Linked DNA regions of Homo sapiens: region 2 is linked to region 1. Evidence: fine-mapped expression QTL. A gene starts in region 1. The other region holds a variant in brackets. All regions are shown on one strand. Distances are between the middles of the regions.

Region 1 (4,400 bases):
AGCCTCCCAAAGTGCTAGGATTACAGGCATGACCCACTGGCCCTAATTTTAAAATGTTTTGTAGAGATGGAGTCTTGGTATGTTGCCCAGGCTGGTCTCAAACTTCTGGGCTCAAGCTTTCCTCCTACCGTTGGCCTCCCAAAGTGCTGGGATTACAGGTGTGAGCCACACCAGTTCTGTGGCTGCACTGAAGTGCAGTGGCACAATCTCGGCTCACTGTAGCCTTGACCTCTTGGGCTTAAGCGATCTTCCCACCCCAGCCTCCCAAGTAGCTGGGACTACAGACACATGCCACCATGCCTGGCAAAATATTTTAAATTTTTTGTAGAGATATGGTCTCGCTATGTTGCCTAGGCTGCTCTCGAACTCCTGGCTTCCAGAGATCCTCCTGTCTTGGCCTCCCAAAGTGTTGGGATTACCAACCCTGCCTAGCCCCACCATCCACCCTTCTGTTCAGTGCCCTACATAAATCCTGCAATTGTTAGTTTTTCGCAGAAGCTTTACCCAGTTCAGTTCTGCATTCATCCACTGTACTAACGAAGAGTGTCATATATATTTTTTGTTGTTAATCTCATAACCCAAACTAGATTAATCTCCCTAAGGTTGGTTGTCCTGGCACATTTTTTATTTTATTTTTATTATTTTTTATTTCAATAGGTTTTTGGGGAACAAGTGGTGTTTGGTTACATGAATCAGTTCTTCAGGGGTGATTTCCGAGATTCTGGTGCACCCATTACCTGAGCAGTGAACACTGTATCCAATGTGTAGTCTTCTATCCTTCATCCCCCTCCCACTCTCTTTCTACCAAGTCCCCAAAGTCCATAGTGTCATTCTTGCGGCACATTTCTTTTGTATAGCCAATTGGGTCTACCACCCTGTTGGGCATACAGGCAATCGAAAGCTTTGTAACTGATGAATGACATTTAAAAGCTCTGCTATAGATAAGTATAAACTGCTGATTTCTTACTAAGTGATTTTGCTTTTGAAATTTATTCCTTGTCAAGGAGGTATTAGTTTAAGTATAACCATTTCAAGTACAGAATAACCACTCAATAAGTTTTAGGGATGAAAACATTTAACATGTAATTTTTTATTTTAAAGTAATACATAAGTTGCTAAGACTAACACTTTCAAAACTTTCAGGAAAGGATATAAAGGAATTGAAAACATAAATTATAACACACATAAAGCTTATGAACTCCATTTATCTTAAAATAGTCAATGGATTTTTTGCTCAGGCACAAACCTTAAGTATAATCATCAAGAGCAGAAAACTTGAATGAATGGTGTGTGAATGAATGTATGTGTACACAAAAGCACACTCAGGTCTCCGAAGTTTAAGTAAATGAAATGAAAGGGCTTTGTAAACTAAAAAGAGCCACAGATAAAGGAGGTAGTAGAGCAACAGAGTTAAAAGCGTGGAGCCAGCCTGCTCGGGTGTTAATTATATTAGCTGTGTAACCCTGTACGGTACAAAAGTTACAATACTAAAATTTCCTGTGCCTTAGTTTCTTCACTGTCAAAATGGGGACAACAGTATATATCCCAAAGTAAAGCTCTTAATACGCCCAGCGCATAGAAAGCACAAAATAAATATTGCCCATCATTATGATCACACTGGCTAATATTATTATTGGCTAATATTAGTTATTAGCCAAGTAAAAGCCTCAATGGATGACGTTTCAATTCAAGTCTGAAGCTGGCTATCCAAAGAAACTCCAAAAAACCCAGCAGATTTAAGCTATTAGGTGGACTAGTTTCTCATAATTCTCGCAAGTGCTGAACTGATGATTATTACACACCTAATTTCTCTTACAATTTTTTTTAAATCAGCAAAGAAACTGACATAGGTATCTCTGTTTTCAAGGAACTTTATAAGCCACAAGAAAACAAACCAACTCTTTGTTATCTCCATATTTAAGCAATATAAGAGCGTAGTAAAAGCCTAGATACTTTACAGAACAACTTTTCAGAAAATACAGTAAGGTTTTTAAAGTTGCAATCGACAATTCTTATGCAGTTATGTCAAGTTTTTGTCCTGCGAAACAAAAGCTCATCCGTCAGGAATCCGAGGACCCGTCGGAAAATAAGGAAATGCCTGGGCCGGGCCTAGGCGCTCTGCGGAAAACCTGTCCTCAAAAATGCTCGCCCCACACTCGTTCTGTCCTTCCCCTTCCCCAGGTGCAGCTGTCGACTCCACCCGAAGATAAATAAGTGACAACAGGTTCGGTCCACGCCTCTCCCGGCCCAGTCCCCTGGAGCCCCCCAGCGCCCGCTGCCCGACTCTCCCCGCAGGGACCGGCAGAGGGGCTCCGCCCCGGCCTTGCCGCCCCGCCCCGGGACCCGGCAGCGCTGCCGCGAGCCCGGCCGAGCCGAGGCCGCCGCGGGGCCTGCAGGTGGGCCCAGGGCGCGGCCAAGCCCGGCTGGAGTAGCCCTGCCAGGGCAGGGCAGCTGCGGGCGCGGGGCTCGCACCGGCTCGGCAGTCACTTACCGGCGCCTCATGGTACCGCGGCGCCTCAGCCCAGCCTCGGCGCTGACGACCAGCGCCCGGCAGCCTAGAGAGTCCCTCGGCTTCTGGGCCGAGTCCCACTCAGGGCCATTCAAACGCGGCCGCGCGCGCGGCCCGCCGGGATAGCTGGCGCTGTGGGCGGCTCGCGGGCTCCGCCCAACGTTGGCTCCGCCCCTCTGGGGGTCGCTAAGGGCCGGAGGGGAAAAGGACCTGTGGCCACAGTGCCCCCTGGTGGCTAGAGCTTCGCACGGTAGCCTTGCTATGGCGCGAGAAGTGATACTGCGATAGGAACTGAGGGTGGGTAAAGGTCAACGAATGACCGACCGTGCGCTAGGAACAACCTAGTGTGGGAGACCGTGCCTTAGTGGTGTACCAGGAGGTGCAAACAATTTCCTATAAAGTTATGGTTCCGGGAGAGATTTATTCATTCACACCTATTTAAATACACTAAGAGTCTGGGCACAGTGGCTCACACCTGTAATCCCAGCACTTTGGGAGGCCGAGGCAGGAGGTTCACCTAAGCCCAGGAATTCAAGACCAGCCTGGACGACATGGGGACAACTACCCCCCACCCCCCACCTCCGCCCCCGTCTCTATAAAAATAAAAATGATACTAATAAACGCTCTAAGGCATAGTTTCTAAAAGCATGGATTGTGGAACTATGTGACCTTGAGCAAGTCACATAAACTCCTAGGTGCTTTGCTTTCCCCTTCTGTAAAATGGGGACAATAACAATAGTATCTGTCTCTTAGTGTTGTGAGGATTAAATGAATTAATACATATAAAATGCTTAGAGGAGTGCCCGGCATATGGTAAGCCCTTCGTGTTTGTTAGTCATCATTTTTTTAGTTCCTATTATGTGCCAAACTTTGTGCTAGACTCTTAAGAACACAAGAAATGTACATGATGCAGAACCTGTCCTCAGGAAGCTGGTTCGGTCTTGTTGGGATGGGGAACACTAAATTAGATTATGAGGTTAGGGTTGGGTCTGTAGATGATGAACTTTTAATTACTGAGGGCAGTTCTCTTCATTAGAACCAGGCTGCTCACCTTCATAGATAAGCCACCGGTCAAGGTTAGCCAAGCTGTGACAGGAGCAAGTTTGTCTATGGTGGTTCTCTCGCCCCTTGCAGAAACCAACCAAGCAGTGCCTTTGGTGGAAATACTTCCTCACCACAAGACTACATCCCTTGGCTTGCTTTTTCAGGCACTCATTTCGGAACTCAAGGCTTGCCTAGGGAGCAGGCTGCTTAAGTTTGGTTTAACAATCTTTTTGAAGGCCCGCCATGTGCCAGGCAAATTGTGCCTGGTGCTGGAAATCGCCTGAAGCAGCTCTCAGTGGCTTGAAAAACAGGAAAAGAGATCATTCCAATACACTGCAGTGATAAAAGGTATCTCCTAAATGCCGTGGGAGTTCCGAGCAATGGGAGGCCTGTCAGATAAACTGATCAGAACTAAGATGTCATCAGGTTGTTATAACTTTATGTATTTTTCCTCCCTAGTAACAGAGTCCTTACTTAATCAAAAAAAAAAAAAAAGTCATGTTGAAAATTGAGGCAAGACCTTAGGGCAGTGGGAAAATAGTTTTAGGATATTTGGCATAAGCAACACCTTTGAGAGCTTCTCGATTGTACCAAGCATAAGCAAGGCACATACATGCCTATGTGTGGGGCCACATCTGTTAACAGGTGGTACTGTTGAGAGAGTCCAGCTAGGTGAGTAAAGGAAGCTGGAGCCCTAGGTTCCATGTATGTACAATAAAGAATATTTCCTGAATATGACTTCCACTAAGTAGATGTGTTGTTTTAAAGAAAATAAAAATTCAACACACATGGGTGAAGTCACTTTCTCTCAAGTCATTTCTTCATCATCATGAACAGGAATTTCTTG
Region 2 (4,400 bases), 77 kb before region 1:
AAACTTTTTCCTGCTCCACTTACAGTTCAAAAGGCACACCATAGGAATGAATTGGTATGGTGCTTTAGTAGCCAAGATACACAGTTAAAAGTATTAATAAAACAGGAATGAACACATTAAGATGTATTTTAAATACTATAGAGAAATTATTCCTATCAAGAACATCTGAGATGTGGTAGAAACAGATGAAAACATTCATATAAGGTTTAACATATATCATACAAAAGAAACAAATATTAGACACATATCCTGAGAGAATAAAACATTATTTGAAGAAATATAAAATTTACATATGTCAAGGGTGACAGTAATGCCTACTTAGTGAAGTGACATATTCAAAGGTCAAATACTGGCCGGGAGCTATGGCTCACACCTGTATCCCAGCACTTGGGCAGGCCGAGGCGGGTGGATCACGTGCGGTCAGGAGTTTGGGATCAGCCTGGCCAACATGGTGAAACCCTGTCTCTATTAAAAATACAAAAATTAGCTGGGCATGGGGGCGGGCGCCACTTGGGAGGCTGAGGTAGGAGAATCGCTTGAACCCAGAAGCCGACATTGTGCCACTGCTCTCCAGCCTGGGTGACAGAGTGAGACTCCATTTCAAAAACAAACAAAAAAACAAAGGTCAAATATTGTGGCCAGGCATGGTGGCTCATGCCTATAATCCCAGTACTTTGGGAGGCTGAGGCATTGCGGATCACCTGACGTTGGGAGTTCAAGACCAGTCTGACCAACATGGAGAAACCCCGTCTCTACTAAAAATACAAAATTAGCCAGGCGTGGTGGCGAATGCCTGTAACGCTTGAACCCCGGAGGCGGAGGTTGCGGTGAGCCAAGATCGTGCCATTGCACTCCAGCCTGGGCAACAAGAGTGAAACTCCATCTCAAACAAACAAACAAAAAACAAATATTGCTAAGACTGCTCCACCTCCACCCTTCTTTATTTTCTCCTAGAACATAACTGAATGGTTAAGAGCATAAACTCTGGAGTTAGGCTGTCTGCTTTAACAGTTATTAACTGTATAGACTTGGGCAAACCAGTTAAATTCTCTGAACTTTCATTTCTTAAGGACACCTATGATACCTACCATATGGTTGTTGTGAGGACAAAAGGAGTGAATACGAGTGCTCAGATCACTACCTGGCAGTATTCGTTAAGTGTTAGCTATTATTATAAATCTCCAGAAAAACTTTTTCTCCTCAATTACAGCAAGGGCTTCTTTCTAGAAAGGGTGAAATGTTTGTGTTCTTTAGCATTATCTTTGATTGCAGAAAAAACACATATAGGTACAATATCAAGAAGTCAAGTAATCATTAAAATGTTTATTGATGTAAAGCTGCAATCAAACACTAACTCTTGGGAGAAAAATAAAGGGTGAGGACAAAAAAATCACCTGATTATTGTAAAGCTCTGACTTAGGCAAGTTGTTTTGAGTAAACAGGTATAAAATGCTGAAAGAGCTCATGAGTAGGAATCAAGATTTGAATGTAGGAGTAAAAAATGTGCTTATGGGACACAATTACAGCTGTGCTGATGCTTCACACACATAATGTTTAAGTTCTATGAAAGTGTTGAATGGATCACAAACTAGATCAAGTGATTCAGCAAATCCCTTTAGAAGGCAATGCATTCATTGAATGCTGTTCCAAATAAAGTGTTGTAATGTTTCTATAAATACAGAAATTCAAAACTTACAATTAACTAGCTGTTGTACGTTTACTGAGATCTTTAATATCTGAAGTATACAAAAAGGGGCAGGTCAGGCTATAGTGAAGGAGCTTAAGTTTGTTAAGGATTAAGGATTTAGCTCGGCTTCTAGGCCAGCCTTCAGGAATATAAAAAAGGCTTCAGATGACATAAAATCTAAATGTCTCCCAATTTGGCATAGTTTTAAGATAATTTTGCACTGTGGTGTCAAAGCAGAAGTTGTACAGTATATTGAGGACTTTATTATCGTGGAGCAGAGCCTATTATTATTTTGGGATGTTGAGCTGAAGTCAGACTCATTTCTCATAATCCAAGTACATAAAACCTACTTCACCTGATAATCTGAGCCTCAATGTTAAGTGTTTGAAACTCAGAGTCCCCTAATCCTATACCAGTATCTTTTCCCCTGTGTTACAGTATTTATGACTCTGCATGTGCTAAGGAACAGCTTCCTTCTGATTCCTTAAAAGGAAAAACTCAAATAAATATCCAGGACATACGCAACTTTGGAGTTAAAAGTTCAGTAATTTCACTGGAGACAGTTCAGGGAATGTATTTCTTCTAGGCTAACCACACA[T/C]CCACAAAAAAGGGAGTGCTTTTCACACATGGTTTCATCTTGTGCATTAGGAATACAATCCAGTCACTGCATAACCACTGTACAATGTCAATTTCACCAGGTAATAGTATTTTATAACACAGAGAAGTGGAGGTGAGGAATGGGTATATTTAAAGGCTATGATTTTACATAATTTACATAAAAAGTTCTTTCTATACAAGATAATGGTGGTTGGGTGCAGTGGCTCATGTCTGTAGTCTCAACACTTTGGTGGGCTGACATGGGAGGGTATCTTGAGGCCAAGAGTTCAAGACCAGCCTGGGAAATATAGGAAGACCCTGTCTTTATTAAAACAAAACAAAAAAAAAACAAACACAAAACCCCCCAAAACAAAAGGTGATGCCTTCACAAGCCCAAAGGAGCTCTGTCTATAGTTTTGATTTTGTATATCATTTATAATTAAAATGTCACTTTTTCCTGAAGAGCCAAAAGTAGTAATTTAGATAGAATGTTGCTGCAACAATTCAGGAAGAAAAAAATTAAAAACCAATACTTAGAATTTACCAAGCAGCTATTTACTCAGTATGACTCAGGACACAAGCACTGAAGGGTGTATAGTCTAGCGGACTTAGAATCTAAATTAAATAGGAACAAGGATGTACACAGCATGTAGAAGAAAAAAAAAAGCAAATTATCAAAAAGAAGTAGAAATACTTTTTTTTCTTTTTTTAGCAAATGTTTAAATTTGAATTATATTAGTTTCTCCAGTGGGACATCTCTGGCTTCAAAGGTATTAATGGCTAAACAAGATAGTCATCATTTCAGTGAAAATAATAATGGTGTGATGTCAAAGAACATTAAGATGTTTAACAATTTTTGAAATTTATAGCCAAGAAAAAGGATGATTTGGAAATGATGTAATCAGAATTTTTCCACGTCAAGTTCTTGTAGGGAAAACTTCCCAGCAGCTACCCATTCTACAAGTCAAAATGTGTAGGGAAGGAAGAAAGAACCTAAGACAAAATGCCCTTGAAAGTTGTACCTTAGTCCACTGGATGCTACGTCCTCAAAAGACATCACAGTATGGATAATGAACTAATATATAAGTATGAATATCATATATCTAACTGAGAAATAAACAGGGATGGCCATGGTATACAAAACTCTCTATTAAGCCTAATTATTACTTGAGATTTGATGATAAAGTTCTGAGGGTCCTATTGACAGCAGTGCAAATAGCTTCCTTCTGTAGCCAGTCATGGAGAAAAAAGTAACATACTACATATAAAGAAAAAATGGGTTTTACAAAACGCAATACTATATTTTACATTTGAGTTTGAAATTGCTTAGATCTGGATCTTCCTAAAAGTATAAGTTAGAACTAAAGCTTTCAAAGTCTTTTCCAAAATAGTATGCTTTTAGAAACACAATACATTTAGTATTTCGGAACAACTTTTTGAGGGTAGGGACTGTACCTTACCTTTGCACTTAACATTAACGAGCATATAGCAAGTAATCTGTTTATTATGGAGAGCCTCACTACCTCAACCAGTTGACATTTTATTACACACCAAGTACCTGGCAGCTCAATGCCTGTGTTTATCATCTAGAAACAAGGACATGCAATAAATAGAGAAATTTAGACATACTCTTAATCATACCTATTAACATTAGTTGGGACATAAAACTATTAATTTTCCAATAAAAGTTTTGGGAAACCTGAAATAAGACTTTAGAGAGCTGTATAATCAGAATGACTAACAAGAAAAGAGATATATATTAGTCAACCTTGAAGAAAAAAATTCCAGAGATTGAACTTTAATTTTGAGGTTCTTTTTTTTTTTCCCATGCCCCCTGAGGCTCTGTTCTTTATATACAACTTTAATATACAATTAAGTTGCAGTTGTTACTTACAACCTACTTGTTGAATGTTGACCCAAATATGTTTCTTTGGTATCTTTAACACTTGGCTTATAATGGCTGTGTTACAACTTACTCAGATAACTGCTAATAAACATTACTGGAATGTACTGGAGGAAGCTTTTCCCACTATATAGTCAGCTGTTGCTTTTTTCTTAAAAGATGAAACAAAAGACTAATTAACAGACAAACATAACAGGCCAGGCGTGGTGGCTC

Alleles and levels. Alleles are on the strand shown, and positions count from the first base shown. SD is a standard deviation of normalised expression in the study named.
As copies of T replace C in region 2, the expression in skeletal muscle of the gene that starts at base 2,637 in region 1 goes up (moderate effect, 0.58 SD a copy in GTEx).

What was found. PIP is the estimated chance that this variant, and not a neighbour inherited with it, causes the effect. A credible set is the group of variants that fine-mapping cannot tell apart.
Region 2: its variant is the best candidate, but not a certain one, in a credible set for the expression of KATNBL1 in skeletal muscle (GTEx, PIP 0.76).

The regions. Positions count from the first base shown.
Region 1 is chr15:34,207,460-34,211,859 of GRCh38, forward strand. KATNBL1 (katanin regulatory subunit B1 like 1) reads right to left here and starts at 2,637. Exons shown (of 10, transcript NM_024713.3): 1 at 2,492-2,637. RefSeq lists a silencer at 2,182-2,581.
Region 2 is chr15:34,130,845-34,135,244 of GRCh38, forward strand. No RefSeq gene overlaps it. Among named protein-coding and RNA genes, the nearest start is that of PGBD4, 31 kb to the left of the region's middle. The variant T/C (reference allele first, on the strand shown) is at 2,286.